4 linked regions of the Homo sapiens genome follow. The protein of the gene in region 2 purifies or fractionates together with the protein of the main gene of each other region. This does not show direct contact. Each region holds a gene or a part of one and is shown on either strand. Other genes may lie near its edges.

Region 1 (7,020 bases), on a different chromosome or scaffold from region 2:
TGGTTGGTGAGCAGCAAATCCTGCCTTAAAGTGATTCTCAGGCTAAGTTTGTGAGAAACCCTGCCAAAGAGGTGGTCGACTTCATAATTTGGAGGAACTTTAGAATTATTGGTTGGAATTTTTAGACCATTGGTTCCTGCTTGCCATGGATAGTGGTCACCAGCAGAGGATAAAGTAAAATGGACACAGCAAATTAACACTGATGAAAAAGGCTAGAAGTGGTCATCTTTTTAGTGTGGAGACATTCACTAAGAAAACATGGTTGTAATTTTTAAAAATTTGCATTAGCATAATCATGTTTTCCTAACGTAAAATTGTACCTAGTTGATCCATAGAATTAAGTCTATCAACAGTTTAAGAAATTGACTTCCAGGTGTTCCTTCATGTGAATAAATTTGGGAATTGTTGCAGAGTAAAGAAACAGATTCTATCAACTACACTTGGAATAAAAAGCCCCATTATAGGGCTGGGCGTGGTGGCTCACACCTGTAATCTTAGCACTTTGGGAGGCTGAGATGGGAGAATCGCTTGAGCCCGGGAGTTTGATACCAACCTGGGCAACATGGAGAAACCCTGACTCTACAAAAACATTAAAAAATTAGCCAGGTATGGTGGCATCTGCCTGTAGTACCAGCTACTTGGGAAGCTGAGGTAGGAGGATGCTTTAAGCTCAGGAGGCAGAGGTTATAGTGAGCCAAGATCACGCCACTGCACTCCAGCCTGGGCGACAGAGCCAGACCCTGTCTCAAAAAACAGCCTCATTATTGGTTATTATGTTTCTACCTTCTTTTGTTGTGGTCTCTTGAGGGATACAGCAAGATTGGTGTTGGAGCAACAGGTTCTCTAAATTTTAGTGTGTGAGAATCCTGAGGGAGCTGCACATTCCTGGGCTCCACCCCTGAAGTTAACAGACTTGGAGATAGGTGACAGACACACTAGTGGTTGAGTGGTCCAGATGGCACTCTCAGAACATGGCCCTGGAGCTGCCTTGGCATCTGTTGGCCAGAGGCGAGAATGTGATCTTTTTGTGTCTGCATGCTCCTAAACATTGGTTCTGCCCTTCCATCCAAGTTCACCCATGAAAAAAGCTCTGTGATTAGCCTGGGTTATCTAAGTCCTGCCACTTCCCAGTTTTGTATTGCCTTGGGCAAGTTATCCTCTGTGTCTCAGTTTCATCATCTGTAAAATTAGGGCAATAAATAATAACATCTACCTTGTTCAAAGATTAAATGAGTTAATATATGTAATGGACTTAGGAACGCCACCCGGTGTGGAATAAGCCATATAGAGATGTTAGCTGTTATTTAATTATTATCATTACTGTACCTGTAATTGAAATATAACCAAAGAGAATTATATGGCTGTTTAGTAAATTTACTTTTGTATTTTCCAGAAAGGATTCAGGAATAAGAGGTCAGAAAGGTAGCTGAAAAGGTCATTATTTCATTCTCTGCCTTTTAAAGACTCTGGGGGGAAAATTCCCTTATCTCTTTCAACCCAACTCATTTTGTAGTCTAGCAGATTCTTATAGTCAGACTCCAAGTAGTGTAATTTTCTAGTTTAAATCCATTTTCTCTTGTTCTACCTGGCTTACCTACGTAAGTCAGATATAAGAATTTGGCATTTCTCCTGTGTTTTGACAATATGTTTGGTCTTTAGGCCCAGGTGTTATTTCCCCTCTTTTATTGGGAAAAGCTGGGTAGCAGTTCCTGGGCTTCTGTTCCACTTAAGTGCATGTTTCAGGGTTGGTTTTGATAAAGATGGCAGTGTGATTGGGATTTAGTTTGCCCCAGTATTTAACTGACTACTTGTGCTCTAAGATTTGGCATCCAGAGAGTATTTTTGAGGTTCTGAGGAGAGACTGTAGGTATATCTGATGCTTTTTGGAGAATCCTAGTAGTGAGTCTGGGTGGCATGACCACCTTGTACTTGAAACACTGGGATGGGTACTCACCTCACCAGCCTGTGTTGATTCCTCTGAGGTTTTTAATACAATTACTTTATATGTTTGATGCATAATTATTTCGACTCCGGTATTTAATTTTTCATCTTGGTATTTGCGGTAGCCCTTCAGGATTATCATTCATTTGCTCATTAATTTAGCCGGTCTGTATTGAACACATACTCATGTGTTTTAGGCACAATGTGTTTTGGTACACATCAGTACTTTTGATAGATATTTAGAATGTCGCAGTGTTCCACGAGTCCCTGTCAAGACTGTCAGCAGGGGAATTTAAGACATAAAACTCTTCTGGTTTTAACTTCCTCCTTTTTCTAGACAGTGAGAGGACTCATTCCCTGTTGTGACCACTGGATAAAAGTGATAATGCTTTAAAAAAAAATGCTACTTTATTGCTTTTTGTCCTAATCTTGTTCACATAGACTTATTGGAGATGCTGTCACTTGAACAAGGAGTGAATCTATGCTCTGTAGGTAGCCTGGCTTGCCTAAGGACTTGCTGCCAAAGCTCTCGCTGCCAGAGCTCTCTGGTCAGCCTCTGAGCCACGAGCCAAAGGTGTGCTGTGCCAGAATTCATCTTAAAGTTTAATAGGGCAGGACCTTGGGTACCTGCAGACACTGGTCCTTGGTAATCAGTCAGGAAGAGGCTTGAAGAGAAAGCAAATAGAAAAGACCAGGAAAAGCTAGTGTATATTCTCAGAATATTGTGTTAGCCGATTTTTGTTTTATTAACAATTGTGGGAAAATGTTCCAGTGACTGGAGTGTTATGTTGATTTGGATAACTTGGGAGCTTATTTTAAAAATTACATATACATACACACATTCACCTTCTTCTTCTGCACTAGGACTGTGTGTGTTAAAGTGGAATATGGCCAGGCGCAGTGGCTCATGCCTGTAATCCCTGCACTTTGGGAGGTGGATGCAGGCAGATCACCTGAGGTCGGGAGTTCAAGACCAGCCTGACCAACATGGAGAAACCCTGTCTCTACTAAAAATACAAAATTAGCCAGACATGGTGGCACATGCCTGTAATCCTAGCTACTTGGGAGGCTGAGGCAGGAGAATAGTTTGAACCTGGGAGGCAGAAGTTGCAGTGAACGGAGATTGTGCCACTGCACTCCAGCCTAGGCAACAGAGCAAGACTGTTTCAAAAAGAAAAAATAAATCAGGGCCGGGCGCAGTGGCTCATGCCTGTAATCCCAGCACTTTGGGAGGCTGAGGCTGGCGGATCACGAGGTCAGGAGTTTGAGACCAGCCTGACCAACATGGTGAAACCCCGGCTCTACTAAAAATATAAAAATTAGCCAGATGTGGTGGTGCGTGCCTGTAATCCAAGCTACTTGGGAGGCTGAGGCAGGAGAATCACTTGAACCTGGGAGGCGGAGGTGTGGTGAGCCAAGATTGTGCCACTGCACCAGCCTGGGTGACAGAGTGAAACTCCATCTCAAAAGAAAAAACAAATTAGCTGGGAGTGGTAGCATGCACCTGTAGTCCCAGCTACTCAGGAGGCTGAGATGGAAGGATCACTTGAGCCCAGGAGGTCAAGGCTGCAGTGAGCCAAGATCTTGCCACTGAACTCCCGCTGGGGTGACAGAGCGAGACCGCCATCTCAAAACCAAAAAAACAAAACAAATGGAATCAGCACAATAGCTGTAGAAAGATGCTATTAGAAAGGATGGGGGGAAATGGAAAATAAGTGGCAGATAAAGTACCCATACTAAAAAGATGTCTTTAGCTTGGTTGAAAAATAATTGTCAGTCCTACCACTGTGAGTTCAAAGAACTTAAGAAAATACAGAACTTCAAGCAGAGATATAGAGGATTGGGTAAAATAAGGCATGGCAAAGAGAAAATATAACATCAGCTGGCAGAGCACACAGGAAAGTAGTGGAAGAGAAAACTAAAATTATCACAGGATTAAAAGCCACATTGGAAACAGAATAAAGGCTGGGCACAGTGGTTCACTCCTGTAATCCCAGCTACTTGGGACACTGAGGCAGGAGACTTACTTGAACCTGGGAAGAGGAGGTTGCAGTGAGCCGAGATCATGTCACTGTACTCCAGCCTGGGTGATGAAGTGAGACTGTCAAAAAAAAAAAGAAAGAAAGAAACAGAATAAAGATGAACACACAGTGCTGAAAACAGTAAAGGTTAGGGAGGACAGATTGAAAAATGAAACTGAAGAAAACAATGAGAACATAATAGATGCAGAAAGTAAAAGAGATCTGACGTAAGTATAATTGGTGTCCCTCAAGAAGAGGACCAAAGAAATGAAACAAACTCAAATATATGGTTAAAGAAGAACTTAGAAGTAAAGATTTGAAGTGATAAGTTCAAATTGGCATGATTTGAACTTGCCAAAGATTTGAAGTGATAAGTTCAAATTGGCATGAAGTGATAAGAAAAATTGGCACTGAACAGTTGGCACTGAAACATTTCCTAGGAAAATTTCTTTTTTAAAAAATTTATCTTATTTTTCGTGTGTTTTGTTTTGTTTTGAGACAGTGTCTCACTCTGTTGCCCAGGCTGGGTGCAGAGGCATGATCCCAGCTCACTGCACTCTTGACCTCCTAGGCTTAATCGATTGTCCCACCTCTGCCTCCCGAGTAGCTGAGACTACAGGTGCACACCACCACGCCCGCTAATTTTTGTATTTCTTGTAGAGGCAGGGTTTTGCCATGTTGCCCAGGCTGGTCTCAAACTGTGGGCTCAAGTGATCCACTAACCTCAGTCTCCCAAAGTGCTGGGACTACAGGCCTGGCACAGAGCCTGGCATCCCTAGGAACATTTCTATGTTTTAAGGATGAAGAAAGAATTATTTGGACACCCAGACAAAATGATCAAGTCCTCTTTAAGAGGGGAAAAGAAATTAGGCTAGCTACATTTGATGACAGAAGGCCATGGAGCAATGTCTAGGAATGTACAAATACTGTAGATTGTGCTGCTATAAATACTTGGGGATATACTTAGGCATATGTAAGGTTTATGTGGAAATAATAATGCTGGGGAACACAAAACAATACTCGAAAAATGGGAAGGTATTCTCTTTTCTTGTATAGTAAAGCTTGGTATCCTAAAGATGTCAGTGTCCCTAAACTTAATGTAATCCCTGTTTAAAATACCACAGTTGTTTTTTCTGGAGACAGGGTCTCGCTCTGTCGCCCAGGCTAGAGTGCAGTAGTGTGAGTATAACTCACTGTAACCTCAAACTCCTGGGCTTAATCAGTAGGTGTCTCACTATGTTGCTCAGACTGGTCTTGAGCTCCTGACCTCAAACAGTCCTCCTGCCTGCCCAACCCAAAGTGCTGGGGTTACAGGCATAGGCCACCATACCTGGCCAAAAATACTCCAGATTTTTAATAATGGTTTTTTAGAACCAGGCAAACTGATTGTTTCTACAGATAAATTTTACAAACATGCACACATTGTCAAAAAACTTCTGAAAAGGTGGACTAATGATGGATATTAAAACATAATGCAAAGATATAATAAATAAGATCGTTTGATACTCTAAGAACTGATGTATAAACAGAGTCTAGAAATGAACTCAGAATACAAAAAGAAATGTAGTCTGTGCTAAAGGTGATAGGAAATGAAGAAAAAATATTTTTAAGGCCAGGCACAGTGGCTCACGCCTGTAATTCCAGCACTTTGGGAGGCGGGGGCAGGCAGATCACGAGGTCAGGAGTTCGAGACCAGCCTGGCCAACATAGTGAAAGCCCGTCTCTACTAAAAATACGAAAAATTAGCCAGGCATGGTGGTGGGCACCTGTAATCCTCGCTACTTGGGAGGCTGAGGCAGGAGAATCACTTGAACCCAGGAGGTGGAGGTTGCAGTGAGCCAAGATTGCATCATTGCACTCCAGCCCGGGTGACAGTGTGAGACCCATATATATATATATATGTATATATATATACATACATATATATACGTATATATATGTATGTATATATATATGTGTATATATATGTATATATATATGTATATATATGTATATATATACGTATATATATATGTGTGTGTATATATATATATATATATTTTTAATAATTGGTATTGAAACCAGAAAAAAAAATTGGATCTCTACCTTAAGCTTTGTACCAGCCGGGTGCAGTGGCTCACACCTGTAATCCCAGCACTTTGGGAGGCTGAGGCGGGTGGATCGCCTAAGGTCAGGAGTTTGAGACCAGTCTGGTCAGCATGGTGAAACCCTGTCTCTACTAAAAATGCAAAAAGTAGCCGGGCATGGTGGCAGGTGCCTGTAATCCCAGCTACTCGGGAAGCTGAGGCAGGAGAATCGCTTGAACCCAGGAGGCAGAGATTGCAGTGAGCCGAGATGGCACCATTGCACTCCAGCCTGGGCAACAGAGTGGGACTCCGTCTCAAAGAAAAAAAAACCTTGTACCAGAATTCCAGATAAATGGAAGAATGTAAACATATAACTGTAAAACACGGGAGAATCTTGGTGTGAGAAAGCCATGAAAGTAGAAGTAAACTATATAAAAATAAAATCTCTGTAACAAAACCAAAGTCAAAAGATAAGTGACAAACTGAAAAAATACATGTAATGTCCTAGACAAAGAACAAATCCCTTAATAACTGCATATAAAGATCTGCAAATCACCAGGAGACCAGTCACCCAGTAGAAAAAGAGAAATAGATAGGAAGAGTTTCCAGAAAGGATATGTAAATGATTCTTGAACGTATGAAGAACTGAACCTCATAAGAAAAAAAAAAAATGGAGTTTCAGCTAGATTAGGAAAAATAAAAAACCGTGGTAATCTACTGTGTGTGTGTGTATACACGTATGTGTAGCTTTCCCATGCAGTTGCTATCAAAATTTAAATTGGCATTATTTTCCACCTGGTAGTTCCGCTAGTGGTAATTCATCCTACAGCTATACTCATGTGGTTGAAATGACTAAAGTGCAAGGATATTCATTTTAGCATTATTTGTAAAAGAAAAATATGAAAATATTATTATTAGGGAAATTGTTGAATAAATTATGCTACCTCCATGCAGCTGTTAAAAGAATGAGCTAGCTTTTCATATACTGATAT
Region 2 (7,715 bases):
TCCCATCAACACCACCAAATTTCTTGGCCTCAATTCAACTTAAGCCTCTGCCAATTATTTCCTGCAGAAACATAATAAAATATTCCTAAGATTGCTTCATGACACTCACAGCAATTTCCATTTGTTATTTAGCATTCATTAGGAGCCAATGAGATAGTCCTTATAACTCTAAATTCTACGCAGAACTTATCAATTCCCAGTGGACAATGTTGCTTTCTTCTCTACATTCTTTCCTCTGATATACATTCTCTTCTACCATAAAAACTTTTTCAAAAATGCACATTCTTAGCTTAACTTCCCAATCTAGATTCTCCATAAAGATAGTCTGGTGGCTCTTCATTAATCCCCTTCTGGGAGCACTGAGGTCGTGTAACTAGGAAATTGCTTATGATTAAGGGCCCTTCATTTAAATCTTGCTGACCTCACACAAAAAATTAAAGGAACAGTAATCTTTCCAAAACTCACATGAGAATACTAAAATAGTGGGAGAATGTGGCCTTGTACAGTTTCCACTCAAGGACTAGGAACTGAATCTCTGCACCCTTAAAACCACTCTCTTAGCCGGGCGCGGTGGCTCATACCTGTAATCCCAGCACTTTGGGAGGCCAAGGCAGGTGGATCACGAGGTCAGGGGTTTAAGACCAGCCTGGCCGAGATGGTAAAACACCATCTCTACTAAAAATACAATAAATTAGCTGGGCGTGGTGGCGACGCCTGTAATCCCAGCTACTCAGGAGGCTGAGGCAGAGAATTGCTTGAACCTGGGAGGCGGAGAAGTTTGCAGTGAGCCGAGATCGCACCACTGCACTCCAGCCTGGGGGACAAAGCAAGACTCCGTCTCAAAAAACACACACACAAAAAAACGCTCTCTTACTGATTCTACATACTTTGGAAACTTATCCAACCCAGAATGACCTCAAGACTGATTTTTTTTTTTTTTTTTTTTTGAGACGGAGTTTCGCTCTTGTTGCCTAGGCTGGAGTGCAACGGCGTGATCTCGGCTCACCGCAACCTCCGCCTCCCGAGTTCAAGTGATTCTCCTGCCTCAGCCTCCCAAGTAGCTGGGATTACAGGCATGCGCCACCACGCCCGGCTAATTTTGAATTTTTAGGTTTCTCCACGTTAGTCAGGCTGGTCTCGAATTTCCGACCTCAGGTGATCCACCTGCCTTGGCCTCCCAAAGTGCTGGGATTACAGGAGTGAGCCACTGCGCCCGACAGGCTGAATTTTTTTTTTTCCAAGAATGAAGTGACACAAATTAGGATCATGGTACTGAATCCGATGAAAATAACAGACTTAGTCCCCAGACTTTCCAAGCTGGGAAGGAAAAGGGAACCACAAAGGAGTTCCCAAAGCGTTAACCTTTCATTTAAATATCTCAATATTTGAATGATTTCTACACACAGCCTTTTTTAGCTTTTGTATGTGCAGTGACCAAACTACTAATCAAATACAACAAAACTGGGCGGGCGCGGTGGATGCCTGTAATTCCAGCACTTTGAGAGGCCGACGTGGACGAATCACTTGAGGCCAGGAGTTCAAGACCAGCCTGGCCAACATGATGAAACCCCGTCTTTACTACAAATACAAAAATTAGCCGAGTGTGGTGGCGCGCGCCGGTACTTCCAGCTACTCGGGAGTCTGAGGCAGGGGAATCGCTTGAACCCGGGAGGCAGAGGTTGCAGTGAGCCAAGATCGCGCCACTGCACTCCAGTTTGGGCGACAGAGCTAGCCTGTCTTAAAAAAAAAAAAGAAAAAAGAGAGACAGACTCCTTGGGTTTCCATTGGATACTCCCCAGAAAGCAGACCCTCACAGGACAAGCGTTTGCCTTCAAAGTCTTGACCATCCTCTACTAGACTCTAACCTCTAACCACAAACACCATAGTTATAAGATTTCCAAAGAGGCTGGGGAGAAGGAGGATAAATCAACCAGGAAACAATGTAGACAACAAGGTTATCAGGAAACAAAGTAGACAACAAGGTTATCAGGAAACAAAGTAGACAACAAGGTTATCAAGAAACAAAAAGAAACTGTCATTGCTACACTAGTTAAAATGATACAGACTTTGAAAAGCAAAACAGCCAAGAAACCACATGGTTCCTTTACTTCTGAAGCCTCTTGTGACAGGATCTATATTCCTAACAGTCTATATTCCTAGGAAAATTGGGATCACAGACGATCAAACAATAACTCACTGTTTTCATAACTTGACTGGTAAGTGGGGGGAAGGGAATTGGTAAACGACAAAAAGTGACTTACAGTGAATTTAATGATCTGTTGGGGATATGTGGGGAAGTCACGTCCCAGACATCAGCCTCAGTTTACCCACCCAGAAAAAGGCGAGAACATAACACTTCGCTCAGAAGAGCCAGAGGGCCTTGTTCCATAAGCCTCCACCTACTCAAAGGTCCCTTCAAAGGCTGGACTCAGTAGGGGTCCCCAGTGCAATTGAGGCATGACACCCGGAGACTTCGGGGTGGGGGGAAAAGGAGAAAGGAAGGAGGGTCAAAGTGCGCAAAGCTCTATCGGTTCCTGGAAAGCCATTTTCGCCACACACTGGGGGTGCCCTAGACCCAACATCTCCTCCCTAAAGAACCACACCGGGAAGCCCCAGCAACTCTCCCTCCTTTCGGCTTCTCCCTCGGTTCCGGGCTGCCCCTCCGGCCGCGCCCCTCAACGCAGTCCGGTAGCCCCTCCTCTGGCAGTGTCACGGCGGCCGGCCAGCCTGCCCACCCGCCGGCGCCAAGGTCTTCTCAACCCCGCGGCGGAAGGATGCCGGGCTGGGCCTCCCAGGCTCCTCCTGGGCCTACCTGCAAGGCAGACGGGAGCTCGGTTTGCAGTCCAGCGAACGGGCTGAGCCACAGGGAAAAAGAAAGAGGAGACAGGAATAAAGGAAGGGGTCCGTTCTACCGACCGGCAGGAGAAGGCGGCTTGAGCGCGGGGCCTCGCGGACAACTCAGCCCTCGACCCGGCGCCGCCGCCGCTCAGGAGACATCAAGCAAGAAGACGGCGCAAAAGATCACCGAATACAAGAACGCCCCAGACATCAAAGGAGGAACGCCCAAGCAATCGTTCAAGGAACCACAGCCGAGCGCCGAAAAACAGCTCAACTCCTACTCAAGGTCCGGCTCCTGTCTGAGGCGTAAATAAACAAACCCAGATCATAAGCCACGGGTTAAAAAAGAGCCTGCACTTCTGCCATTTTCTGTGGGTCGCCGGCTGTTAAAGTTCTTTAGAGAACTGGAGTTTCTCGTGAATGTGTTGAAGATCAAATCATAGCGCAATAACACTTGTTGTGTAACTATAGTCCCCCAACTGTTCTATGGACTCCCAACACTCTTTATCCCAATTGAGCAAATTAGTTAACCTCATTTGACCCTTAGTTTCCTAACAGAGCAGTGAGGGGAATTAAAAATCATAGAGACAGAAAACGAGAGAGAATTCAAGCTGAGGAACAAAATGAACAGTCTACGTAAAAGCTCCAGTTTAGTCCCCACAAAGCATGACCAAGAGAAGCTGGGAAAACCCAGAATTATGTAGCCTGACCTTAAGGCAGGGGGAAAAAAAGCACACGGATTGCTTTTCTCTTTTATTTTCTTCCAAAGGCCTAGAGCCACAGGTGTGCTTCTTACATAATAAGCAAAAGTCTCTTTGGGTTCAGAACCTGATAAAGTGTTGACATTTTCATCACCACAACAATGGCTTTTTTCTGTAGTCTCTTAGTTGATAAATGAATATGCTCAGCACAAATATGGATTAATATGTACATCCTAGATGTGATTCAATAAATCACAAAGATCACTGCAAGTATGGTTACCAATTGTGAGCAATCATAGTCTACCTTACCTGCTCCTAGGGAGGTTTACACCCTTCCCCACTACTCAGAGAGGAAGGGTGTAAAAAGGAAACAAGATAGTCCCAGTTTGTCGGGCGCAGCGGCTCACGTCCATAATTCCAGCACTTTAGGAGACGAGGCTGGTGGATTGCTTTGAGCCCTGGAGTTCAAGACCAGCCTGGGCAACATGGTGAGACTCCAGTCTCTATAAAAAAAAAATAAATAAATACAAAAAGTTAGCCGGGCCTGGTGGCTCCCGCCTGTAGGCCCAGCTACTCGGGAAGCTAAGATGAAAGGATATCCTGAGCCCGGGAGGTGGAGGCTGCGATGAGCCATGATCACACCATTGCACTCCAGCCTGATCTATGGAGCAAGACCCTATCTTAAATTTTTTTTTTTTTAAATGCCGGGCGCAGTGGCTCACGCCTGTAAGCCCAGGACTTTGGGAGGCCGAGGCAGGTGGATCACGAGGTCAGGAGTTTGAGACCAGCCTGGTCAAGATGGTGAAACCCCGTCTCTACTAAAAATACAAAAATTAGCCGGTCGTGGTGGCGGGTGCCTGTTATCCCAGCTTTTCGGGAGGCTGAGGCAGGAGAATCGCTTGAACCCAGGAGGCGGAGGTTGCAGTGAGCAGAGATCGTGCCACTGCACTCCAGCCTGGGCGACACAGCAAGACTCCGTCTAAAAAAAAAAAAAAAAAAAAAAAAAAAAAAAAAAAAAAAAAAAAAAAAGTCCCAGCCTTTGAAGACTTTAATTAAACTCAAAGAGCACATCCTTACAGTATTAGCCTTTTTTAAATAATGTATTGGCACTTTACAAAAATCTCCTCTAAGTCTTTGAAAATACTGCCCAGGCCGGGCGCGGTGGCTCACGCCTGTAATCCCAGCACTTTGGGAGGCCGAGGCGGGCGGTTCATGAGGTCAGGAGATTGAGACCATCCTGGCTAATGCGGTGAACCCCGTCTCTACTAAAAATACAAAAAATTAGCCAAGCGTGGTGGCAGGAGCCTGTAGTCCCAGCTACTCGGGACTACAAAAAAAAAAAAAAAGAAAGAAAGAAAACTCTCCTTCTTGGAGAGGCTTGTGGAGCATAGCTATAGCCCTCATTCAAATTTTACTCAGATAACTACATTGTTTTTGTTTCTTTGTTTTTTGAGACGGACTCTCGCTCTGTCGCCCAGGCTGGAGTGCAGTGGAGCGATCTTGGCTCACTGCAACCTCTGGCTCCTGTGTTCACGCCATTCTCCCGCCTCAGCCTCCCGAGTAGCTGGGACTACATGCGCCCGCCACCACGCCCGGCTTTTTTTTTTTTTGAGGATTCTCGCTCTGTCACCCAGGCTGGAGTGCAGTGGCATGATCTCGACTCACTGCAAGCTCCGCCTCCCGGGTTCACGCCATTCTCCCGCCTCAGCCTCCCGAGTAGCTGGGACTACAGGCGTCCGCCACCACGCCCAGTTAATTTTTTGTATTTTTAGTAGGGATGGGGTTTCACCGTGGTCTCGATCTTCTGACCTTGTGATCCGCCCGCCTCGGCCTCCCAAAGTGCTGGGATTACAGGGGTGAGCCACTGCGCCCGGCCACGCCCGGCTAATTTTTTTGTATTTTTAGTAGAGACGGGGTTTCACCGTGTTAGCCAGGATGGTCTCGATCTCCTGACCTCGTGATCCACCCACCTCGGCTTCCCGAAGTCCTGGGATTACAGGCTTGAGCCACTGCGCCCGGCCAACTACATTGTTTTGAAACCTTGATTGCAGTAAAAAAAACTAATTTCACTGCTCTAGACATTTTCCTTTTTTCAAAAGCTGGAGACTTTTGAGTAAAACACCTGAAAGTTCGGCAAAGATTTATCTAAAATCATCATCTGAAAATGAAAATATTTGCAACGCTGAGTCTAGACTGCTTTGTGAGACCATGGAAAGGGTGGCTTATTCTATGGGCAGAGTTGCACCTTTACAGATAAATTTCCTTTAGAGAACTGTTCTTTTCAAATATGTATGTATATATATGGATTTAAGCTTCAGTTTGACAGCAAACTACTGCATGTTCTTATGGAAATGTTTATTTAGACTGAAGAGTGGATCACAAGAGATCAGGAGTTGAAACCATCAACCTTGCGGGAATCTCCTCACACTAGAGGAAAAACTGTAAAAAAGAAACAAGGCCAGCAGAAGTGAAGATCATCCTGGGCTGTACCCCTGATGTTCCTCATATTGATGTTAAGACTCAAGAACTCATTATGGTGTTTACTGTTGATCACTGAATTCTGGTAGGACTCTCCTCATGGAGCCACTCCCCTGAGGTAGGATGGTGCTTCCCTGAAGTAGGATAACCAGTCTTAGTTTTGCCCAGGACTGAGGAGTTTCCCTGAACATGGGACTTTGAGTGTTAAAACTGTGACAGCCATGGGAAATCTGGGACAGTTCACTCTTAAGCATGGACCTTGCCCCTGTCAATCACATGGAAAAAACTTTGGAAAGACTAAACCAACAAGAGGTCAGGTGTGGCAGCTCACACCTGTACTCTCAGCACTTTGGAAGTCCAGGGCGGGAGGATAGGTTAAGTCCAGGAGTTTGAGACCAGCCTGGGCAACATAGTGAGAACCTGTCTCTAAAAAACAAAAAAATTTTTTTAATTAGCAGGGAGTGGTGGCATACACTGGCAATCCCAGATGTTCAGGAGGCTGGGGCAGGAGGCTCACCTGAGCCCAGGAGGTCGAGTCTGCAGTGTGTCATGATCACACCACTGTACTCCAGTCTGGGCAACAGAGACAGTGAAACCCTGCCTCAAAAAAAAAAAAAAAAAAAAAAGAGGATGAGGATGGGACACACTTGCCTAGGAGACTTGCCTGGAATGAAGGGTGAAGGAGGGAGGGGAGAGAACAGGGAATTGGAGACTGTTCCTTATCTTGGCTCTGGGTTCTGAGAAACATGCCTCTACCACACACTCGGTGGTAGAAATCAGGTTTGACCCTAGCGTGAGATAATTCTGTAATGGTACCGTGAGTCATCTTACTAGGAAGTGCAGGAAGACCAGTCAGGCCTTGAACAGCTGAAATGGTAAGCCAGTTGTCAATTCTGCCATTGCAATTCTGTTCTGTTCTTTTCTAGCCGGTTCTTTTTGTGCTGTGGGGTAATGTATACACTTGATGATGGAATGGTAAAGGTAGTAGTATAGTGACGTAGGAGCAGCCCAGGGAAGGAGAGAGAGCCCAGAACAGCAGGGAACTGCTAGCCGTAGAATGATAGAAGGCTCTCCCTTCTTTGGAATTATTTCTATAAGATAAATCTCCAGTGATGAAATTTATCAATAGATCAAAATGTATGAATATTTTAAGGCTCTAGAATGACAAAGAAATCAGCCCATCTGTAAAAGACAGCATAAAGATTAGAGAAAGTTAACATGTCAACAGAATAATAGATCCTTAATGTTTTGCTGGGCAAACAGGGAGGCCCCTTTTTGAAATTTGCTAATTTATGATTTCAAAGTCTAATCTCCTTTCTCCTGTTCAGTATCCAGAGATCTAATTTCTTCTACTTTACAATCACAAGAGGCCTTCAGTTGTAGTCATTTTTTTTTCTCTTTTTTTTTTTTTGGAGTTTTGCTCTTGTTGCTGGAGTTGCAATGACAGGATCTCAGCTCACTGCAATCTCTGCCTCCCAGGTTTAAGTGATTCTCCTGCCTCAGCCTCCCTAGTAACTGGGATGACAGGCGCCCGCCACCATGCCCAGCTAATTTTTGTACTTTTAGTAGAGACGGGGTTTCACCATGTTGGCCAGGATGGTCTCGATCTCTTGACCTTGTGATCTGCCTACCTCGGCCTCCCAAAGTGCTGGGATTACAGGCGTGAGCCACTGTGCCCAGCCTGTAGTCATGTTAAAA
Region 3 (7,767 bases), on a different chromosome or scaffold from region 2:
CGTCTCAAAAAAAAAAAAAAGCGTGGACCTAGTAGTCAGACCCTCTCCTCTGGCTCCTGACAGCCCCAGTGGCTTGCAGTGTGACTTTCTGCAAGTGACCTAACGTCTCTGTGCCTCTGTTTTCTCACCTGTAAAATGGAAGTAAGAGGCGAGTTGCGGAAAAGATTCAGAGAGGCAGGACAGGTCCTGCATTTAGCACGTCTTACATGCTGGGAGTATTGGAGGCGGGTGGAGCCAGGGTGGGGACATGCAGCCAGCTGGAGCCAGGAAAGCTTTCCCGGAAGGATTGTCCCAGGGTGTGGACACCCCACTATCTTCACATATGCTGTTGCCTCCGTCTTAAACATCTTTCCTCCCTTCCATGCCCTTTGGCCAGTCCAAATCCTACTCACATTCTAGACTGCAGATAGTAATGAAAACAACGACAAATGCTTATTTACCTCTTTCTCTGTGTCAGGCATTGTTCTAAACTCTACACATATTCATGACTTTAAGCTTCACAATTTTTTTTTTTTTTTGGAGACGAAGTTTCACTCTTGTTGCCCACGCTGGGGTGCAGTGTCATGATCTTGGCTCACCACAACCTCTGCCGTTCAAGCAATTCTCTTGCCTCAGCCTCCCGAGTAGCTGGGATTACAGGCATGTGCCACCATGCCTGGCTAATTTTTTATTTTTAGTAGAGATGGGGTTTCTCCATGTTAGTCAGGCTGGTCTCAAACTCCCGACCTCAGGTGATCCACCCGCCTCGGCCTCCCAAAGTGCTGGGATTACAGGTGTGAGCCACCGTGCCCACCCTGAGCCTCACAATTCTAATAGCATTTTAGAATCCCTGTTTTATTTGATCTTTTTTAGAGATGGGGTCTCACACCATCGCTCAGGCTGGAGTGCAGTGGCACCATCATAGCTCATGGCAGCCTCAACCTCCCAGGCTCAAGTGATTCTCCTACCTTAGCCTCACGAGTAGCTGTGACTACAGGTGCACACCACCTCACTCAGCTAATTAAAATTTTTTTCTTTTTGTAGAGACAGGGTCTCACCATGGTGCCCAGGCTGGTCTCGAACTCCTGACCTCAAGCTCTCTTCCTGACTCAGCCTCCCAAAGTCCTGGGTTTATAGGCATGAACCACCATGCCCAGTGAAATCCCTGTTTTAAAGACGAGGAGGCCGGGCAAGGTGGCTCATGCTTGTAATCCAGCACTTTGGGAGCTGAGTTGGGTGGATCGTTTGAGTCCCGGAGTTTGAGACCAGCATGGGCAACATAGAGAGACCCACCTCTCTACAAAGAAAACTAAAAAATTAGCTGGGTGTGGTGGTGCATGCCTGTAGGTCCAGCTACTTGGGAGACTGAGGCAAGAGGATCACGTGTGCCCAGAGGTGGAGGTGACAGTGAGCCGTGATCATGCCACTGCACTCTAGCCTGGGTGACAGCAGGACAGACAGACCCTGTCTGAAAAAAAAAAAAAAAAGAGGATTTTTGAGGCCCAGAAAGGCTGAGGAGCCCATCCTAAGTTATCCATCTGAATCAACCCCTGGCAGAGCTTTACTTATTTATCTCCTTTGTGGCCTATCACCTTCTACCAGAATGGGAGCTGCACTGGGGCAGAGAGGGAGCTCCGGCTGTTTGATTCTTACCTGGATCTCCAGCTTCTAGAACAGGGCCTGGTATGCAGTGAGTGCTCACTGTTTGTTGAATGCATGAAGTGGCAGAATTGGGATGTGCACCCAGGCAGTCTGGTTCCGGTTCAGACCGTTGAATTAAAATGCCACCTCCTCCAGGAAGACTTCCCTGAATCCTTCTCTGTATCCGCCCTCCTCAGGGCTCTCACAGTGGCCTGAGCATCCCCTCATCACAGCCCTGGATGCAGGGCTGGTGCCTGGTGCCCTGTCCACCCCATCTCTGGTCTGTGGGCCCCGGTGGTGGCTGTTGACTCTGTGGTGTTAGCAGGAATAAGGAGGTTTTCCAGCCTCTGGCTCCCTGCTGGGGGACTCACCAAACACGAAGTTGTCCGGCCGAAAGATCTGACCGAAGGGGCCAGAACGGACAGAGTCCATGGTGCCGGGTTCCAGGTCCACCAGCACCGCTCTGGGGACATAATTTCCTCCTGCAGGGAAACAGATGGAGGGCAGTTCGATGCGTGCCAGGAACCACAGGCGCCCGGTAGCATCCTGTTCCCTCCCAGCTGCCCCTTCCCACCTGGAAGGTGCCTCCTTCGCCCTACCTGTGGCCTCGTTGTAGTACACGTTGATCCTCTCCAGTTGCAGGTCACTGTCCCCATGGTATGTGCCTGTGGGGTCGATGCCATGTTCGTCACTGATAACCTCCCAAAACTAGAGAGAGAGGTGGTCGGAAGAGTTGAGAGAGGGGAAGCCGGTGGCCAAGCCGAGGACTGCCCCCAGCCCCCAACTAGCTCCCTAGCTGCCACCTCTCCCCCAGCAAGGTGAACGGGGGACCTAGAGGCATGGTGTCGGGGCGAGGATGAGGCAGCAAGAAGGAGCGGTGGGGGCGGGGTGCAGCCGAGTCAGCACCCAGCGGGGCCGGCTGGTGCCAGCGCACCCAGGCTGCAGCCCGGGGGAGGCACCGGGGCTCTTTGTGCGTGAGGAGGGGACAGTGGCCCAGCTGTGGGCCCAGCTGTGACAGGCGGACAGAAGGCTGGCTCCCACTCTCCGCAGCCTCTTTGTTCCCAGTCTGGCCCTGCCACCCCCACCCCGCGACCCTTCCCCCAAGGCCCCTGGGGCGCGCTGGCCTCCTGGGGACCTCATTCCTTTCCAAAGACTCCCAGGTTGCGGGGTGCTCCGGGGACCGACCCCGCGGTGCTCCCCGGGGCCGCCACTGCCTCCCCGGGCCCCGTTCCCCGAGCACCTTGGCCCCGATCTGGTTGCCGCACTGGCCGGCCTGCAGGTGCACGATCTCCCGCATGGCGGTGGCGCTGAGGGTGGACGCGGCGGCGGTGGCACGAGCGCGGGGAGCTGCGGCGGCGGCGAGGGTGGAAGATGCGGCGGAGACGGCGGAGCACGGTCCCTGCGCCCCCGGGAGCCGCTATATGAGCGGGCGGGGCACGCGTCACGGCCGGTCACCCTCCCGCTCCGCCCCTTGGTCCCGCCCCGGGATGATGGAGGGGGCTGGGGTGGGGGGAGGTGGTGCAGGGACCTCCCTCCCCAGGGGGCCTCCCAGAGAAGTCCGGGACGCCACGTGCTCCGACCCCTGCCTTGGGGGTGAGGCCCCTTAGGGAGCCACCAGTGCAGTCTCCCCCGTCCCAGCCCCCAGCCAGGCTTGGCCACCCGCAGAAATTGGGCGGAGGAAGGGAGGGGAGCGCCTGGTAAACAGGCATCTGAGAAGTCCTGCCCCTCCCCCTTAGCCTCCACCCTCCCGCCCCAGGCCTTGCCTCAGTTTCTCGGTCCGCAGCCCCCCTTCTCATTCTATTTAGACCTCATTCGCCAGAATCCTTGCAGTAACCGCGAGCCCTCCCAGTGGGCTGGGGGCTCCGGAGCGGCGATCTGGTTTGCGGGTGGGGGGCGGTAGGTTCCTGGAGGGCTTGTCCTGAAGCTGCATAGTAAAACCACGATTTTCCTCCCATGATTGGGTGCAGATGCTGGTGGGCTCCCCTGGTACACCTCTACTGGGCATTGAGCTCGTCCCAGGTGGGGTCACCCCCAGCCTGGCCTAAGGAGGAGAGTGGAGGAGTAAGACAGCTGGGTTCATATTGGGAGGGGGACAGTGAGTCCCCAGGGCTGCCTCGCTTTCCCAAAATAACACCCCTCCTCTCCAGTATTGTAATTTATCTTTATCTATATCTATACCCTTTTTTTTTTTTTTTTGAGACAGAGTTTCGCTCTTGGCGCCCAGGCTGGAGTGCAATGGCCCAATCTCGGCTCACTACAACCTCAGCCTCCCAGGTCCAAGCGATTCTCCTGCCTCAGCCTCCCGAGTAGCTGGGATTACAGGCATGTGCCACCACGCCCGGCTAATTTTTTTGTATTTTTAGTAGAGACAAAGTTTCTCCATGTTGTTCAGGCTGGTCTCAGACTCCTGACCTCAGGCCATCTGCCCACCTCTGCCTCCCAAAGTGCTGGGATTACAGGCGTGAGCCAACGCGCCCGGCCTATATATATATATTTTCGGACAGGGTCTTGCTCTGTCCCTCAGGCTGTAGTGCAGTGGCATGCTCATAGCTCACTGCAGCCTCAATGTCCTGGGCTCAAGCAATCCTCTCACCTCAGCCTCCCAAGTAGCTGGGACTGCAGGTGCATGCCATCACGCCTGGCTAATTTTCAAGATTTTTTGTAGAGATGGGGTCTCGCTATGTTGTCCAGGCTGCTCTCCAACTCCTGAGCTCAAGAGATCCTCCTGCCTCAGCCTCCCAAAGTGCTGGGATTCCAGGCATGAGCCACTGCGCCCAGCTCAGTATTATAATTTATTACCCACCATCTCCCTTGCCTCTGCATTTCCTGTAGCATTAGGTGTATGACCTTGCCCTGGTGCTCCTCTCTGTGTCTGAATTTCACATTTGCAAGTTGGGGTGGTGAGGAAGGCCCACCCTCCAGGGTCTGATTATGCGATGACCCAGTTAACAAGGTGGCGATAGTCTCCCCTCCTGCAGAGTCAACAATAAATTGTATCTTTCTCGAGTCTAAGTATTATCAGAGGCTGGACTGGACTTCCTGTGCTGCCCCTCATGTGAAGGTCAAGCCTCCTGGGGCTGCTTCCTTGGACAGCCTCCAGTCCCGCCCTCCCAGGAAGTCTCCTCCTCGCCTCCCATCCTTGACTTTCCCACTCAAGGACTTTGGTGTATTGCTGGTGGGAGGTGGGGTAAGCCATCTTGGCCATGTGGTTGGGACCTCACATTTGCCATGGCCACTAATTTTTTTTTTTTTTTTTTTTTTTTGACAGAGTCTTGCTCTGTCACCCAGGCTGGAGTGCAGTGGTGCCATCTCGGCTCACTGCAACCTCTGCCTCCTGGGTTCAAGCCATTCTCCTGGCTCAGCCGCCCCAGTAGCTGAGATTACAGGTACGTACCACCATGACCAGCTAATTTTTGTATTTTTAGTAGAGACGGGCTTTCACCATGTTAGCCAGGCTGGTCTCGAACTCCTGACCTCGTGACCTGCCCACCTTGGCCTCCCAAAGTGCTGGGATTACAGGCGCGAGCCACCGCGCCCAGCAAATTCTTTTTTTTTAATTTCTTGCCCTGTCATCCAGGCTGGGGTGCAGTGGCATGGCCATGGCTCACTGCAGCCTCGAACTCCTGGGCTCAAGTGATTCTCCCACCTCAGCCTCCCGAGTAGCTGGGACTACAGGCATGCACCAATATGCCTGGGTAATTTTTGTATTTTTTTGTGGAGATGGGGGTCTTGCTATGTTGCCCAGGCTGGTCTCCAACGCCTGAGCTCAAGCAATCCTCCCACCTCAGCCTCCCAAAGTGCTGGGTTTACACATGTGAGCCATCGTGCCCTGCCCAATGACCACTAAATTTGACCAGTGGCTCTCAACAGCGTGTGTGTGAGAGTGTGTGTGTGTGTGTGTGTGTGTGTGTGTGTGTGTCGGGGGGGCGGGGGAGCGGTGATATTGCCTTCCCAGGGAACACTTGGCAATATCTGAAGACATTTTTGGTTGTCGTACCCAGATGGGGGCGGGGATGTGTGTGTGAGACTATGTGTGCACTACTGGCATCTAGTGGGTGGAGGCCAGAGATGCTGCTGAAAGCCCTTCAGTGCACAGGACGGCCCCACCCCAGAGAATGATGCAGGCCCAATGTCAACAGGGTTGAGGCTGAGAAATCCTGTGTTAATTATTTTGGGAAAAAATTTGTGTTAGCCCCTTCGCTCACACTAGATGCCAGAATAAATTCCAGAGGGGCTAGACCTTATATGGGTTTGGTGGGGCGATCCCTTAGCTTCTGTGACTTATATACTCTCTCTCCCTCAACTCAGTTAGTATGTGTGTATGTATGTTTTTATCTTTTTAGCAAGCTATTTTTTTTTTTGAGATGGAGTTTCGCTCTTCTTGCCCAGGCTGGAGTGCAGTGGTGCAATCTCTGCTCATCTCAACCTCCGCCTCTTGGGTTCAAGCGATTCTCCTGCCTCGGCCTCCCGAGTAGCTGGGATTACAGGCATGCACTGCCACGCCCGGCTAATTTTGTATTTTTAGTAGAGACAGGGTTTCTCCATGTTGGTCAGGCTGGTCTTGAACTCCCGACCTCAGGTGATTCCCCTCACCTTGGCCTCCCAAAGTGCTGAGATTACAGGCGTGAGCCACTGCACCCGGCCGCCATTTTTTTTTTTTTTTTTGAGACAGTTTCACCCTGTTGCACAGGCTGGAGTACAGTGGTGTGATCATATCTCACTGCAGCCTTGACCTCCCAGGCTCTGGTGATCCTCCCACGTCAGCCTCCTGAGTAGCTGGGACTACAGGTGGGCACCACCAGGCCTGGCTAATTTTTGCATTTTTTGTAGAGACAGGGTCTCGCTATGTTGCCCAGGCTGGTCTCAAACTCCTGGGCTCAAGTGGTCCTCCTTCCTGTCAGGCCTCTGAGCCCAAGCTAAGCCATTGTAACCCCTATGACCTGCTCGTATACATCCAGATGGCCTGAAGCAACTGAAGATCCACAAAAAAAGTGAAAATAGCCTTAACTGATGACATTCCACCATTGTGATTTGTTGCGGCCCCACCCTAACTGATCAATGTACTTTGTAATCTCCCCCACCCTTAAGAAGGTTCTTTGTAATTCTCCCCACTCTCAAGAATGTACTTTGTGAGATCCACCCCTGCCCCCAACACATTGCTCCTAACTCCACCGCCTCTCCCAAAACCTATAAGAACCAATGATAATCCCACCACCCTTTGCTGACTCCTTTTTCCCACTCAGCCCGCCTGCACCCAGGTGAAATAAACAGCCTTGTTGCTCACACAAAGCCTGTTTGGTGGCCTCTTCACACGGACACGTGAGACACTGCCTTGGCCTTCCAAGGTGCTGGGATTATAGGTGTGAGCCACTGCGCCTGGCCAGCAAATGATTTTTTATTTACTCGCATAGTATAGCTCCAATAGGAAAGTAATTTGGCTTAGCACTCTTTACAGCTCCAGCACAATCTTGAAGGCATCCTAAGGTTTCTCTGACCCACACCTAACAGTGGCTTTAAAAAACGGCCGGCCGCGGTGGCTCACGCCTGTAATCCCAGCACTTTGGGAGGCCGAGTTGGGCAGATCACGAGGTCAGGAGATCGAGACCATCCTGGCTAACACGGTGAAACCCCATCTCTACTAAAAATACAAAAAAAAAAAAATTAGCTGGGTGTGGTGGTGGGCGCCTGTAGTCCCAGCTACTCAGGAGGCTGAGGCAGGAGAATGGCGTGAACCCAGGAGGCGGAGCTTGCAGTGAGCCGAGATTGCGCCACTGCACTCCAGCCTGGGCGACAGAGTGAGACACCATCTCAAAAAAAAAAAAAAAACAAAAACCCTCCAAAACCCCTCCCCACCTATACTTCTTTTTTTTTTGGAGACGGAGTTTTGCTCTTGTCGTCCAGGCTGGAGTGCAGTGGCACGATCTCAACTCACTGCAACCTCTAACTCCGGGGTTCAAGTGATTCTCCTGCCTCAGCCTCCTGAGTAGCTGAGATTACAGGTGTGCACCACCACCCTCAGCAAATTTTTGTATTATTGGTAGGGACAGGGTTTCACCATGTTGGCCAGGCTGATCGCAAGCTCCTGACCTCAGGTGATCCACTCGCCTCGGCCTCCCAAAGTGTTGGGATTACAGGCGTGAGCCACCA
Region 4 (7,020 bases), on a different chromosome or scaffold from region 2:
CTCCACCCGGCACAGGTACCTCAAGAAGATGAGACAGAGCAAGAGAAGAACAGTCAGAGGAGCAGGTATGGGGCTAGGAAGGATGCCCTTTGGCCAACCTCAAAAGGGTTAGGTCAACTCTCCCCACTCTTTTCTCCAAGTACAGCATCTCTGCTTGGCTTGGCCACCCATATAAACCCTGTAGTCTTTTTTTTTTTTTCTGAAACAGGGTTTCACAGCTCACTGCAGCCTCGAACTCTGGGGCTCAAGTGATCCTCCCATCTCGGTCTCCAAAGTAGCTTGGATTACAGGCGTGCACCACCACATCCGAATATTTTTTGTAGAGACGAGGTTTCACTTTGCTGCCCAGGCTGATCTCCAACTCCTGAGCTCAAGCGACTGCCTGCTTTGGTCTCCCAAAGTGCTAGGATTATAGGCATGAGCCACCAACCCCAGCCCCCTGTAATCGTTTGCTTCTACTCTTGGGTGCTTCCCCAAACCCTCTCCTTATTTTCTCAGAACATGGCCTGTAGTATTTATTTCTTTAATTACCTCCTTAAGCACTTTTTGGACCACAGGATGGGTGAGAGTCAAATGGACAAACAAAAATAACAGCAGTAGCTACCAGGTTCAAAAAATAAAACAAACAAAAATAAAAAAAACAATACACAGTAACAAATCTGACTCAGGGTGAGAAAACAGGAGGAGAATTTGTTTTTGGTTTTCGTTTTTTGTTTTTTTGAGACAGAGTCTCGCTCTGTCGCCCAGGCTGGAATGCAGTGGCTCCATCTCAGCTCACTGCATCCTTCACCTCCTAGATTCAAGCAACTCTCCTTCCTCAGCCTCCCAAGTAGCTGGACTTACAGGCATGTACCACCACACCCAGCTAATTTTTTGTATTTTTAGTAGAGATGGGGTTTCACCATGTTGGCCAGGCTGGTCTTGAATTCCTGACCTCAAGTGATCCACCCACCTTGGACTCCCAAAATGCTGGGATTACACACATGAGCCACTGTGCCTGGCCCAGGAGGAGAATCTGAAGCTTAGGATCTACTAGAAAGAACACTGGATCAGGAGGATTCTAGTCTCGACCACTCCTGAAGAATAATCCCAGCTAATCCCTAACTTTTATGCCTCAGCTTTCTCAGCTATAAAATGCAGCCAAAGCTAGCTCCATCTAAGACAAGGATAATGTAAAGATAAAAAGAATGCCATAGGCCGGGTGTGGTGGCTCACGCCTATAATCCCAACAATTTTGGAGGCCGAGGCGGGTAGATCACCTGAGGTCAGGAGCTTGAGACCAGCCTGACCAACATGGAGAAATCCCGTCTCTACTAAAAATACATAAATTAGCTGAGCGTGGTGGCTCATGCCTGTAATCCCAGCTACTCAGGAGGCTGAGGCAGGAGAATCACTTGAACCCAGGAGGCGGAGGTTGCAGTGAGCCGAGATTGCACCATTGCATTCCAACCTGGGCAACAAGAGCAAAACTCCGTCTCAAAAAAGAAAAAAATAAGTAAGATTCCATATATGTGAAAGTGTTTTGAGAGCAACCTCGTCTAACACACACAAGAGCTCCCACAGACACTGAGAAGTAGGGTAAAGAAGGAAGTGGCAAAGAGAAGAGTGAGGCAGGGGAAACTAGCTGGAATATCAGCCAAGAAAGGATTGGGGCCTTACCTATCATAGCAGTCCCCTCGAGAACCAACAGGAACATCAAACTCAACCTGGTCGTAAACATCATAGGGCTGGGTCTTCCGCAGGTCCCACTGGATGCCTGAGCCCCGAAGCATCACTCCACTGTGGAGAGCATAATGGGAATAAGGGCCACTCTCCACAAACTAAGTAAGGAGGCTCCTTCTTCCTTAGCCTCCCTTGTTGATCCTTCACATTCAGGGTATGACTAGGAGGATGCCAACAAGTCTTCAAAGACAAGATATTAGGCTGGAACTCCCCCACTCCCACCCCCACTCCTACGGAGAGAAGTTGTATTCCCCTCACCTAAAACCATAGTTAAGTGCTTCTTCTGCTGTTACAACCCCAATGTCAATTGTCCGATTTCGCCAGATCCTATTGTTGGTCAGCAACTATTGATCAAGAAAACTGGTGTGTTAATACTCTTCCTCACACTCTTCAAATATCTCTGTATTTCTCTAGCCCTTCTTGTGGGGGAGAGATTTTTCCCATTGACTCCTAGCTTACCTCCTCCAACTCATCAAGCCGAAGAGAGAAGTTCTTAGAAAACTGATAAATGTCATCCATAAGCCCAAGGGGTAGGTCCTAGAAGCCAAACGGAAGTGCTACTGAATGTGGCATAGCCTTCACTAAGGAGAGCCCTCTCAGCACCCCCTCCCCCAGCGATACAGGTTTGGAGTTTCCATCATCCAGCACTGCCCTCCAGTGGCCACAGGGAAAATAGGCCTGGGCTGGACATTTGGGGAAGCCGGGGACCTGCTCACCTGGTGCACTCCTCCTGGCCGGATATAAGCAGCATGCATTCGGGCTCCAGACACTCGCTCGTAGAACTCAAACATCTTCATAGAACGTGCTGGGAATTAGTGTCAAAGTCCCAGGCCCCCAGGTCCTATGATGGCCTACTCCCCCACTTTCTGCCTTCTTGTGCCCAACCAACCCCTCATGATATAGTTTCTACAAATATAACCCAAGTTAAACATACCTTCCCCCTCTAAATGTTCTCCCATGTTCTCTCTCTTCTTTTAATCTCCTGTCTCCTTTATACCTTCTCTACTTCCTGCACTTCCTTCCCTATTCCTATCCTTTCCTCCCACTCTTACCTTCTCCCTTTCTTCAAACAGCCAGAAGAAAGGGGTCATGGCCCCAAGGTCCAGGGCATGTGTGGTCACAGCCATGATGTGGTTCAACAAACGTGTGATTTCTCCAAACAGCACTGTGAAGACAAGGAGAAGACAGGATATAGGAGCCAAGCACTGAGGCGGACAGAGAGGTCTGGGCAGAGCCTGGGGTCTGAACACTAAGCTTGGGTTCAACGGGGAAGTGGTGGAAAAGGCACTATGCTATGCTCACAGTGGGCCACAGAAAAAGTTGGGGGGACATACCTCGGATCCACTGTGCCCGAGGAGGAGGCCGGATGTTTAGCAACTTCTCCACAGCTAGAGAATAGGCCTGTTCGTTACACATCATGGACACATAGTCTAGCCGGTCAAAGTATGGAAGGGCCTGGGAAGAGGGAGGAATGTGGGTCACATCTAACAGGCTCAGGAGCCCACAGTCTGGCTGCCTGAAGCCTTGCTCTCAGTCGGCACCAGAAGTTGGTGCTGTATAAGCCTTTCTAGTCTCAGGAGCCCCAACAAGGCAGGTAAAAATATCCCAAAAACCAGTAGTATTCTAGTAAATGTTTAAAAACTGGCTCTCCAAAGTGAGGGAGGACTCTGATTTGTCATGTTTGCCAATTTCCATGGTAAAAATACTCCCACAATGGCCAATTTTAAGTTACCAATATCATGTAACTGAATGCAGCATTGGGAAGAATACCACACCATTATACAGTATTTCCACCATACAGACACATTCAAAGCAAATACCTCAAAGGCAGAGCATAGTAAAATGTGGTAAAATAATGAAGTGATGAGCTTTGAATATTTAATCTTACCTTTGCTTTTAATATAATGTATTAAATCATAAGCTTATATAAATTAATTTCTGACAATGGCTATGTTCAACAACTGGCTCACAAAACTCCTGAAAATTTAACAACTGCACTCTTGCAAGCCCGTATGAGCTAGCTCCAGGATACCACTGTCAAGAGTCCTTGGCCGGGCACGTGGCTCACGCCTGTAATCCCAACACTTTGGGAGGCCGAGGCGGGTAGATCACCTGAGGTCAGGAGTTTGAGACCAGCCTGACCAACATGGAGAAACCCCTTCTCTACTAAAAATACAAAATTAGCAGGGCGTGGTGGTGCATGCCTGTAATCCCAGCTACTTGGGAGGCTGAGGCAGGAAAATCACTTGAACCCAGGAAGCAGAGGTTGCAGTGAGACAAGACTATGCCACTGCATTCTAGCCTAGGCAACAAGAGCAAAACTCCATCTCAAAAAATAATAAAAATTTAAAAAACTGACATACTGGTCAGGCGCGGTGGCTCACACCTGTAATCCCAGCACTTTGGGAGGCCAAGTCAGGGTGGCTCATGAGGTCAGGAGTTTGAGACCAGCCTGGCCAACATGGTGAAACCCCATCTCTACTAAAAATATAGAAATTAGCTGGGCGTGGTGGTGAGTACCTGTAATCCCAGCTATTTGGGAGGCTGAGGAACGAGACTCGCTTGAACCTGGGAGGTGGAGTTTGCAGTGAGCCAAGATCACACTATTGCACTCCAGCCTGGGCAACAAGAGTGAAACTCCGTCTCAAAAAAAAAAAAAAAAAAAAAAAAATTAGCCAGGCATGGTGGTGCGTGCCTATAATCCTGGCTACTCTGGGGGCTGAAACAGAATTGCTTAAACTCGGGAGGCAGAGGTTGCAGTGAGCCAAGATCACGCCACTGCACTCCAGCCTGGGCGACAGAGCGAGACTCCGTAGGGAAAAAAACAAAACAAACAAAAAACTTCAGATACTGAAGGAGAAAGGCAATCAGTCTTAAGAGTATCTGGGAGGGTTTTTTTTTTTAATCTTTTTTTTTTTTGAGACACAGTCTTGCTCTGTTGCCCAGGCGCTGGAGTGCAGTAGCACCATCTTGGCTCACTGCAACCTCTGCCTCCCAGGTTCAAGTGATTCTCCTACAGGCGCACACCACCACGTCTGGCTAATTTTTGTATTTTTAGTAGAGATGGGGTTTCACCTTGTTGGCCAGGCTGGTCTCAAACTCCTGACCTCAAGTAATCCACCTGCTTCGACCTCCCAAAGTGCTGGGATTACAGGCGTGAGCCCGGCCAGAGTGAGGTATTTAAGGAAGACAGAGCATCAGGTAGAAATGGTCCTTCCTCCAGAATGCCAAAAAGCCAAGTCCTAGCTGTCTGCTGAACCAGCTTCAGCTTCCAGGAAGAGGGTGGAGCTAAGACGCTACTAGCTGGGACAGCCTGTTCTTATTCTGATGTCACTGTGACGGGGGCTAATGCTACAGGGGTTAACCCATAGACTCCAGGACCAGAAACTGTCATCGCCGAGGCTCTCTTGGGGAATCACATTCTAGTCACTGTTCACCCCGACACTGGGCTGGATCTAAATCCTAATCCTACCATCCTGTTATCAGGACCTTTCTTCATGACAGTAAGAAAAAAACTTCAGATTCCTATTAGAGATCCAACTCCTTCAAATCTGACCTTCATCATTTGGGTTATACAGTTCTCCTAAAAATGGCAAACTGTCATAAACCCTCTCTGAGTTGCTGTGACTCATTGAATGTTTTGAAAACAAACGTAGACAGCTGGAAGATACAAGAATCAGCTGTTAAACTTAGCGAGCTAATGTCTTTTCTCTTTCCCTGCCCCTAGGGACACTGGCTTTGACGCACTAGTCTAACGTAAGAGCAGGGAAACTGAGGCACTCAAGTAATGGCAAAGGGGCCTGCCAAAAAGTCAGCCAGAGAAAAGCTGAGTATAGCTCCAGCTTCAAAGCACTGCTGCTAAATAAACCAAATCCTAATGACTCAAGCATCCCCTGCCACTTCCCTCCATCCACCCAACCAAGAGTAATCTCAACGGGTTACTCCTCTCAACACCTTCCTCCCCTCACGTTTTAAGGGCAGCAAACTGGCAAAGCCCCAGGCTAAAGCAACCCCAGATCCCGCCAAAAGGCTCCTGTTCACCCCCCACACCTGAAGATAGGTCTTGTATTCAATGAGCTTCTCAGTGCCTCGGTGCAGGAGCCCGATGTGAGGATCACACTTCCGCACCATCTCCCCACTCAATTCCATCACTAGTCGCAGGACACCATGCGCTGCTGGGTGTTGGGGCCCAAAGTTCAGGGTAATGTTCTTCACAATTGTGTCCTTTGGAGGGTCCACATCTGAGAAGTAAGAAATAGTTCAGAGCCACATGGTTATTCCCTTGGGATCCCCCAAAAGATAGCAAGGAGTTAGCCTCTCCCTATAGATTTTCTAACTCACCATTCCATACTTTGTTAATTTCCTAATCTCCACTATAACCAGGAAGAGGACTCTTAGATGGGGAAAAGGAAGATCTAAACTTTCTGATGACAGACATCATGAATCTCACTCTATGTCTCCTAGAATACCTTTTTTTTTTTCATGGTTCATAGTCAGTGTGCATAGAATATCTTTTTAATAATACATAACACTTATATAGCTTTATTATGTGCCAGGCACTACCTTAGGCACTTTAATTGATTTAATTCTTACAACAACTGTTATGAGTAATAGGTACTATCGTTATCCCCATTTCATTGGATAAACTGAGGCCATGGAGCTTAAATGACTTTTCCAGGATCATAAAACTAGTAAGTGGCAGAACCAGGATTTTAACCCAGCCTGTTTAGCTCCAGGATCCAAACATCTTAACTACTATGATATACTGTCCTCCAAATGTATCCAATGAATGGCCAACCAGTCAGGAAATGGTATACCTAATGCTTACTCGCACTAAATGAACTTTTACCCTCAAGAAGATTACCTTTTTTTTTTTTTTTTGAGACAGAGTCTCACTCTGCACCCAGGCTGGAGTGCAGCAGCACCATCTCGGCTCACTGCAATGTCTGCCTGCCAGGTTCAAGCAATTCTCCTGTGTCAGCCTCCAGAGTAGCTGGGACTACAGGCGCACACCACCATGCCCACCTAATCTGAAGCTTACATTTTAATTTGCGAAAGAAGTACATGTGAAAAACTAGGAACAGAGGCCAAATTTGTAAGTAACCAAGAAAGTGCCTTAGCCATTAAGTTTTTAAAAGAAGGAAAGAACACTGCAAAGACTTCATGTAGGTAGGATCTGAGCTCAAATATAGGAAATGATTTAGATAGCTAGAAGGGAGAAGAAGCATTCCAGGCTATGAAATCAACATGGGCCAAATCTTAGAAACAAGGAAGTAAACATCCATGGAACTCTTATTG

The links.
Region 1: the proteins of AMBRA1 (region 2) and DCAF7 purify together in Homo sapiens (affinity purification with mass spectrometry; 3 studies listed by BioGRID and IntAct, with this or other methods). This does not show direct contact.
Region 3: the proteins of AMBRA1 (region 2) and TUBB4A purify together in Homo sapiens (affinity purification with mass spectrometry, with the first as the bait; 2 studies listed by BioGRID). This does not show direct contact.
Region 4: the proteins of AMBRA1 (region 2) and NDUFS2 purify together in Homo sapiens (affinity purification with mass spectrometry, with the first as the bait; 2 studies listed by BioGRID). This does not show direct contact.

What each region holds. Positions count from the first base shown.
Region 1 is NC_000017.11:63,553,458-63,560,477, forward strand, and holds part of DCAF7 (DDB1- and CUL4-associated factor 7), read left to right. Parts: intron 1-7,020. UniProt on the Homo sapiens protein: Involved in craniofacial development. Acts upstream of the EDN1 pathway and is required for formation of the upper jaw equivalent, the palatoquadrate. The activity required for EDN1 pathway function differs between the first and second arches.
Region 2 is NC_000011.10:46,591,016-46,598,730, forward strand, and holds the start of AMBRA1 (activating molecule in BECN1-regulated autophagy protein 1), read right to left. Parts: upstream 3,009-7,715; 5' UTR 2,813-3,008; intron 350-2,812; exon of another isoform or gene 110-349; intron 1-109. UniProt on the Homo sapiens protein: Substrate-recognition component of a DCX (DDB1-CUL4-X-box) E3 ubiquitin-protein ligase complex involved in cell cycle control and autophagy.
Region 3 is NC_000019.10:6,499,296-6,507,062, forward strand, and holds the start of TUBB4A (tubulin beta-4A chain), read right to left. Parts: upstream 2,918-7,767; coding exon 2,861-2,917; intron 2,329-2,860; coding exon 2,220-2,328; intron 2,103-2,219; coding exon 1,992-2,102; intron 1-1,991. UniProt on the Homo sapiens protein: Tubulin is the major constituent of microtubules, a cylinder consisting of laterally associated linear protofilaments composed of alpha- and beta-tubulin heterodimers.
Region 4 is NC_000001.11:161,205,350-161,212,369, reverse strand, and holds part of NDUFS2 (NADH dehydrogenase [ubiquinone] iron-sulfur protein 2, mitochondrial isoform 1 precursor), read right to left. Parts: intron 5,964-7,020; coding exon 5,773-5,963; intron 3,178-5,772; coding exon 3,057-3,177; intron 2,888-3,056; coding exon 2,775-2,887; intron 2,514-2,774; coding exon 2,439-2,513; intron 2,260-2,438; coding exon 2,182-2,259; intron 2,067-2,181; coding exon 1,981-2,066; intron 1,780-1,980; coding exon 1,660-1,779; intron 20-1,659; coding exon 1-19. UniProt on the Homo sapiens protein: Core subunit of the mitochondrial membrane respiratory chain NADH dehydrogenase (Complex I) which catalyzes electron transfer from NADH through the respiratory chain, using ubiquinone as an electron acceptor. Essential for the catalytic activity of complex I.